2 linked regions of the Homo sapiens genome follow. Changing the gene in region 2 together with the main gene of any one other region gives a genetic interaction. Each region holds a gene or a part of one and is shown on either strand. Other genes may lie near its edges. The genes, in order: METAP2 and PDCD7.

Region 1 (3,824 bases), on a different chromosome or scaffold from region 2:
CACTTTGGGAGGACAAGGTGAGGGTGCAGCTTGAGCTCAGGAATTCAAGATCAGCCTGGGCAACAAAGCAACACCCCCAATCTCTACTGTTTTTTTTTTTTTTTGAGATGGAGTCTCGCTCAGTCGCCCAGGCTGGAGTGCAGTGGGGCGATCTCGGCTCACTGCAAGCTCCGCCTCCCAGGTTCACGCCATTCTCCTGCCTCAGCCTCCTCAGTAGCTGGGACCACAGGCGCCCGCCACCACACCCAGCTATTTTTTTTTTTTGGTATTTTTAGTAGAGACGGGGTTTCACCATGTTAGCCAGGATGGTCTCCATCTCCTGACTTCGTGATCCACCCGCCTTGGCCTCTCAAAGTGCTGGGATTACAGGCATGAGCCACCACATCTGGCCTACATTTTTTAATTAAAAAATAAATAAATAAAAATGGGCAAAAAACTTGAATAGACATTTCTCCAAAGATTAAAAACAAAAAACAAACAAAAACTACCCAGAAAATAGTGTTGGCAAGGAAATGGAAAAATTGGAGCCTTTCCTTGCATACTGTTGGTGGGAATGAAAATGGTACAGCCACTGTGGAAAGTAGTAGAGAAGATACTCAAAAAGTTTAAAAAGATATAATTACCAGATGATTCCCAAATCCACTTCTGGGTATATACCCAAGAATTGAAAACAGACCTTGAAGAGGTATCTATACACCCGTATTCATAGCAGCAATATTCACAATAGCTAAAACATCGGAGCAATCCAAGTGTCTATCAGTGGATGAATGGATAAGCAAAAATGTGGTATATACACACAATAGATTATTTAGCCTTAAGGAAGTAAATTCTGACACATGCTACAACATAGGTGAACCTTGAGTACATTGTGCTAAGTGAAATAAACCAGTCACAAAACAACAAACACTATATGAGGTACTTACAGCAGTAAAAATCATATATAGTAGAATGGTGGTTGCCAGGGTAGGGGGAGAAGAGGAAAATGGGAGTTACTGTTTAATGAGTATAGAGTTTCAGTTTTATAACATGAAGAGTAAACAGAGAAGAATGGTGATAATGGCTGCACAATATTATGAATGTACTTAATACCAATGAACAACATACTTAAAAATGGCCAGGCGCGGTGAATCACGCCTGTAATCCCAGCACTTTGGGAGGCCAAGGCGGGAGGATCACTTGAGATCAGGAGTTTGAGACCAGCCTGGCCAGCATGGTGAAACCCCATCTCTACTAGAAACATAAAAATCAGCCGGGAGTGGTTGTGCGTGCCTGTAATCCCAGCAACTCGGGAGGCTGAGGCAGGAGTATCACTTGAGACCAGGAGGCAGAAGATGCAGTGAGTCGAGATCGTGCCACTGCACTCCAGCCTGGGCAACAGAGTAAGACTCCATCTCAAAAAAAAAAAAAAAAAAAAAGAAAGAAAAAGTTAATATGGTAAATTTTATGTAATGTCTATTTTAACTGCACCTCCCTCCAAAAAAAAAAAAAATTTGAGTGGGTGGGGAAAAGCTGGGCTGTACCAGAGTTTGGTGGACAGAGAGGGATGAATCAGTTGAGCACAGAAGATTTTGGTGGCTATGAAAATACTCTGTATGATACTATAATGGTAGATGCGTGTCATTATATATTTGTCAAACCCCTTATGTATATTACTAAGAATGAACCCTAATGTTAACTATGAACTTTGAATAATTGTGATGTGGTCAATGCTAGTTCAAATGATTTTAACAAATATACCTATGTGGTGGGGATGCTGACAATGGAGGAAATTGGGGAGGGGTGGGTATAAGGGAAATCTCTGTACTTTCTGCTCAATTTTATTATGAACCTAAAATTGTTCTAAAAAAGAACCACAAAAAAACCACTGCCAACTGACAGGCAAAAATAGATCCAAACTCTGTTTTAATAAATTTTAGCAAAGTTCAAGGGAAACAAACAAACAAACAAAAAAACAACCTTTGGTACACAATCATACACTTACCCGCTTAAAACCATAAGGGAAATGGATCAATTTTATTCCTCTTAATTACCCAAAGCCCTTAAACAGGCCTTAAAAGTGCTTAAATGCTGTTAAGTGTTTAAAAGACCTTAAAGTGCTCAAAATATTGGGAATGAAATGGTGCTTACAGTTCACATACCTTTATTCCAGTGTTAGTAGCATCTTTTACAGCTTTTAATAACGTATCATATTTGGGATTAAAAGTGACAGTAAAAGCACAGTCAATAATCCTACCTGAAAGAGAAAATTCCTCTTTTAATTTTACTTATCAGCTAGTCAATTTATCTACTTTACAGCATTTAATCTATTAATCTTGCTAGTTTAACAGAAAAATAGAATGAAGGCTCAAATGAAGGCTGCACTCCAAATACCCAAAGATCATTCATAATCAAAGAGACAAAATGTAGAAGTATATAAAGGATTCAGAATAGAAAGAATTACAAGGTTAGTATATATTACCCCAAGACAGCACCAGTTCAGTGCTCACCCTGGCAGTTATACAAACATATAAACAGAAACAAAATGAATACAAGAAAAGACTAGGGAAATGAGAAATAGTAACGCAGGGCAGAGAAAGTATACAGGGCTCTGAATATACTTTTACTTTTCCAAGGTAGTGAAACCTTAGGCAAGTATTTATTCTAAGCTTGCTTTCTCACTTGTAAGTAAGATAACAAGGTGCTTACCTAACCAGGTTTTGGAGAGAATTCAGAAAAGCAAACATGTATATTAAGGCTGATAAACTTAAGTATTTTAAATAAATGTTATTATTTGAATAAAAGAGATATGAAACAATGACCTAAAGAAAGGTAGGATAATGTCTTTCATGCCTTGATACAAAGGGTAATAAACCTCAACTACCCAACAGTTTTCATTTTATTCTACTTAGTAGTATGCTTTCAAGTAAATGTCACAACTGCCTCTCTCTCCTATAAGTGCACTAAAATTTTTTTAAAAATCTGCCTCAACACACCTTTCCTAATGAAATGAGGAAGCAAGAACAAAATTTGGGAGTTCAGTATTTATCACTCCATTTAACAGAGACAAAAACTAGTTTTTCAGGAGGAGGCTGGGGTAGGAATTTTCTGCAAGAATTTACCACTTATATGTGTTCCAAAGTCTATTTTACAGATGTCATCATACTGTAATACTGTTGTGTCACCGGCATTGGGAGTATAATGGGCAGCACAATTATTGAGAGAACATCCAGTAGGAAATGCCAGGCCTGCATTTAATCCATTCTCTTTTATTAACTTGCGTGAACAGTCTTCCAACTTTTCACTAAAACAAAAAAGCAAAGGGAACTTGTTTACTTTTACATTCTTACTTTTATATATTAATACCATATAGTTCATCAAGTCCAGAAAGTTTACTAAAAACCTTAAATACCTTCTGGGAATGATCTGAGCACTTTCTGAATATAAATAAATAACAGTTCTCTGATGCTATGAAAATAGCATATCTTTAGAAGACAAGGAATTTGATTCTGCTAGAAAGTCAGAGAAACACAATCCACTTTTAACTAAATTTACTAGAAAATAAGAGTCTAACTTAGACCAATTTAAATGCTGATCTTATTTGTTCATGTTGTATATTTTTTAAATTGTAGGAATCAGAGAATTACATGTTATACTAACCATTTATCAAAAGGAAAAACTAGAGAATAATTACTTGAATTGGTTTTGTTACTGTATTATCATCATGTTCTGTATTTGGGCAATTGCTCCAATACTTTCTTATTTCTTAGTATGACTTGTTAGATAGCAAAATAACAGATTTCCAGATAGAAAATAACAATCAGTAATGACTACATGTGCACACAAAA
Region 2 (3,789 bases):
TTCAAACTCCTGGGCTCAACCCATCCTCCCACCTTGGCTTCCCAAGTAGCTACAAGTACAAGTGTGCACCACCATGCCTGGCTTTTTTTTATTTTTTATTTTTTATTTTCAGATAGGGTCTCACTCTGTTGTGCAGGCTGGAGTGCGGCAGCATGACCACGACTCACTGCAGCCTCGACCTCCTGGGCCCGAGATCCTCCCACCTCAGCCTCCCAAGTAGCTGGGACCACAGGCACGTGCCACCACATCTAGCCAATTTTTTTTTTATTTTTGTAGAGACAGGGTATCCCTGTGTTTCTCAAGCTGGTCTTAAACTCCTGGTCAAGCAATCCCCCTGCCTTGGCCTCCCTAAGTGCTGGGATTACAGGCATGAGCCACTGTGCCTGGCCCTACCTACTAATTTGTAAATTTTTTGTATGAGGTCTCACGAGGTCAGGAGATTGAGAACATCCTGGCTAACACGGTGAAACCCCGTCTCTACTAAAAATACAAAAAATTAGCCAGGCATGGTGGCAGGTACCTGTAGTCCCAGCTACTCGGGAGGCTGAGACAGGAGAATGGCGTGAACCTGGGAGGTGGAGCTTGCAGTGAGCGGAGATCACACCACTGCACTCCAGCCTGGGCAACAGAGTGAGACTCCGTCTCCAAAAAAAAAGACCAAAACTTTTTTGTATGAGGTCTTGCTATGTTGCCCAGGCTAATCTCTAACTCCTGGCCTCAAGCAATCCTACCAGCTTGGCTTCCCAAAGTGAGCCACTGCATCCAGCCCAAATGGCCTTTTACACACGTTTTCTTATCCCAAAATTTGTGTTATAATGAGGAAGTTTAAAAGTCCTAGCTATAGTATGTATCGGTTAAAATTTAGAAATTTTACCCAATCTTTTAAGGCTCAATTTGATGTTTCTGAGTATTCAATTACTCTGACCCTACCCTGACTTTCTCAACTCCTCCCTCTGGATCATCCACACCACTTAACCTCTGACTTTCTTTCTTTTTTTTTTTTTTTTTTTGAGATGGAGTTTCATTCTTGTTGCCCAGGCTGGAGGGCAATGGTGCGATCTCAGCTCACTGCAAACTCCACGCATCCCGGGTTCAAGCGATTCTCCTGACTCAGCCTCCTGAGTAGCTGGGATTACAGGCATGCACCAACACACCCGGCTAATTTTTGTATTTTTAGTAGATGTTTCTCCATGTTGGTCAGGCTGGTCTCGAACTCCTGACCTCAGGTGATCCACCCACCTTGGCCTCCCAAAGTGCTGGGATTACAGGCGTGAACCACCATACCTGGCTTCGACTTTGTTTATTTCTAATGGTCTTGATCCTCCACTTGAAACAGTGAGCTCACTAAAGGGAGGAACTTGTCTTAACTTCATTGTTTGTGAAATTCCCTTAGCATCAACTCCCAGATCTAATTAATAAACAATTCTTCCTCTGACTGAGTGTGAATTTTGGGAGTGCACACTTGGATGGTGAGGAAGATACACTTAAAACAACCACACTGACCTTGCAGTCTGCTGCTGACAGTAGGCTGACCAACTGTTTTGGTTTGCCTGCATGTAGCACTGAAAGCCCCAAGTCCCAGTAAAACTGGGATGGTTATTATCCTGATTTAACTATGAGGTCAGCTAACAGTATAGCCAACATATCTAAAGCCACAGTGGAGAAAATAGTCAGGTTATTAGGTGATATCAAAGAATTACTGCTAATTTTTTTGGTGTGACAATGGTATCATAGTTGATGATGAGTGTTTATGTATTCTATTTTTGTGCATGTGTGAAATGTTTCATAAAGTTTCATAAGAAAAAAAGATTTTAACTTAATGAATATTTGAGTGGACTGCAATTGTGCACTCACTACCATAATGGCCCTGTAATACAAAAGCTTCCAGGTGAATCAATGTAGAGTGATGTGGATGTGATCTATCCTGTCAGTCCTTGAAGATTTTAAAGGAAAATATGTTACCCAAGCATTTTAGCAATACCAGATACAGGGCCAAGCGTGGTGGCTCACACCTGTAAACCTAGCACTTTGGGAGACTGAGGCAGGCAGGTTGCCTGAGCTCAGGAGTTCAAGACCAGCCTGGCCAACATGGTGAAACCCCATATCCACTAAAAATACAAAAAATTAGCCGAGCATGGTGGCGTGCGCCTGTAGTTCCAACTACTCAGGAGGCTAAGCCAGGAGAATCGCTTGAACCCAGGAGGTGGAGGCTGCAGTGAGCCAAGATCATGCCACTGCACTCTGGCTTGGGTGACAGAGCAAGACTCTTATCTCCAAAAAAATAAATTTAAAAAAAAAGAATACCAGATACAAGAAAGAAAAAAAAAATCCTAATCCCATTACCATAATCAACCATTTTATACTTTCTCACATTCTCTTCAGGTCTTTTTGTCCATGTATTAGCAACTTCATATAGTTCAACGTTACATGTATGTAATTTCCACTTCTCCCTGTTGATTCTGTACGTTCTTCTCCAATCTTCATAATTATTTAATGGCTGTATCCTATTTCATCAAATCAATACACTAGAATATACTTATCAAGTTCCCTACTCCTGGACACCTAAGCTATTCCAAATGTCCTGTTATTATATTGTGATACAATGAATATTCTTGGGCATGTTACTTTTTTCCTTCCTAGGGATTTCTATCAGAAAAATTCTTGGCCGGGCAGGGTGGCTCCTGTAATTCCAACACTTTGGGAGGCTGAGACGGGTGGATCACGAGGTCAGGAGTTTGAGACCAGCCTGGCCAACATGGTGAAACCCTGTCTCTACTAAAAATACAAAAATTAGCCGGGCGTGGTGGCAGGTGCCTGTAATCCCAGCTACTCAGGAGGCTGAGGCAGGAGAATCGCTTGAAACCAGAAAGCGGGGCTTACAGTGAGCCGAGATCGCACCACGGCACTCCAGCCTGGGCAACAAGAGTGAAACTCTGTCTCAAAAAAAAAAAAAGAAAGAAAAATTCTCAAAAATGGAAATGTTTGTGAATACTTTCAAGACTAACAAACTGTGTTCTAAACTGCTTCCTAAAAAAGCTATATATTTGCTCAGTTACCAAACACTTGACACAGAGAAGGTAATTAATAGATACTTCTTCAATGAATGAATGATTTTCAACAAGGTTTTTTTGTTTGTTTTGTTTTGAGACGGAGTCTCGCTCTGTCACCAGGCTGGAGTACAGTGGCGCGATCTCACCTCACTGTAACCTCTGATTCCTGGGTTCAAGCGATTCTCCTGCCTCAGCCTCCCGAGTAGCTGGGATTACAGGCATGTGCCACCATTCCCAGCTAATTTCTGTATTTTTAGTAGAGACAGTGTTTCACCATGTTGGCCAGGATAATCTTGATCTCCTGACCTCATGATCCTCCCACCTCGGCCTCCCAAAGTGCTGGGATTACAGGCATGAGCCACCATGCCCGGCCCTTCAACAGGGTTTTAACAATTTATGCTGCAACTTGTGTTATACAATAGTGCCAGCTTTGAGCACTAAATTTTCAGTTTGGGCTGATAAATGGCATAAATAATGGTTTCTCAAGGTTAGTAGTTCTGTTTCTTGTAAAGTTGTAATTTGGAGGTAGGATTCTTTCCTCCTTCAACCACTACAGCTAAGTGGTTGTGGAACTCACTCTCAAGGCTAACATTTCTCTAGATGATTTTCTCCTAACTGCTTTGCTTCTACAGGTTTCCATTCACTCATTCTCAACTACAGAAACACTACAACTCAAATTTATCTTCTACTAAGTTGCCAGGCCAGTGTTTTTCAAGTATACACAAAATTCTTATACACT

What was found.
Region 1: changes in PDCD7 (region 2) and METAP2 together harm fitness more than expected from each alone (negative genetic interaction), as found in Homo sapiens cells (one large-scale study listed by BioGRID).

The regions. Positions count from the first base shown.
Region 1 is NC_000012.12:95,494,413-95,498,236, reverse strand, and holds part of METAP2 (methionine aminopeptidase 2), read right to left. Parts: intron 3,281-3,824; coding exon 3,099-3,280; intron 2,234-3,098; coding exon 2,139-2,233; intron 1-2,138. UniProt on the Homo sapiens protein: Cotranslationally removes the N-terminal methionine from nascent proteins. The N-terminal methionine is often cleaved when the second residue in the primary sequence is small and uncharged (Met-Ala-, Cys, Gly, Pro, Ser, Thr, or Val).
Region 2 is NC_000015.10:65,120,063-65,123,851, forward strand, and holds part of PDCD7 (programmed cell death protein 7), read right to left. Parts: intron 1-3,789. UniProt on the Homo sapiens protein: Promotes apoptosis when overexpressed.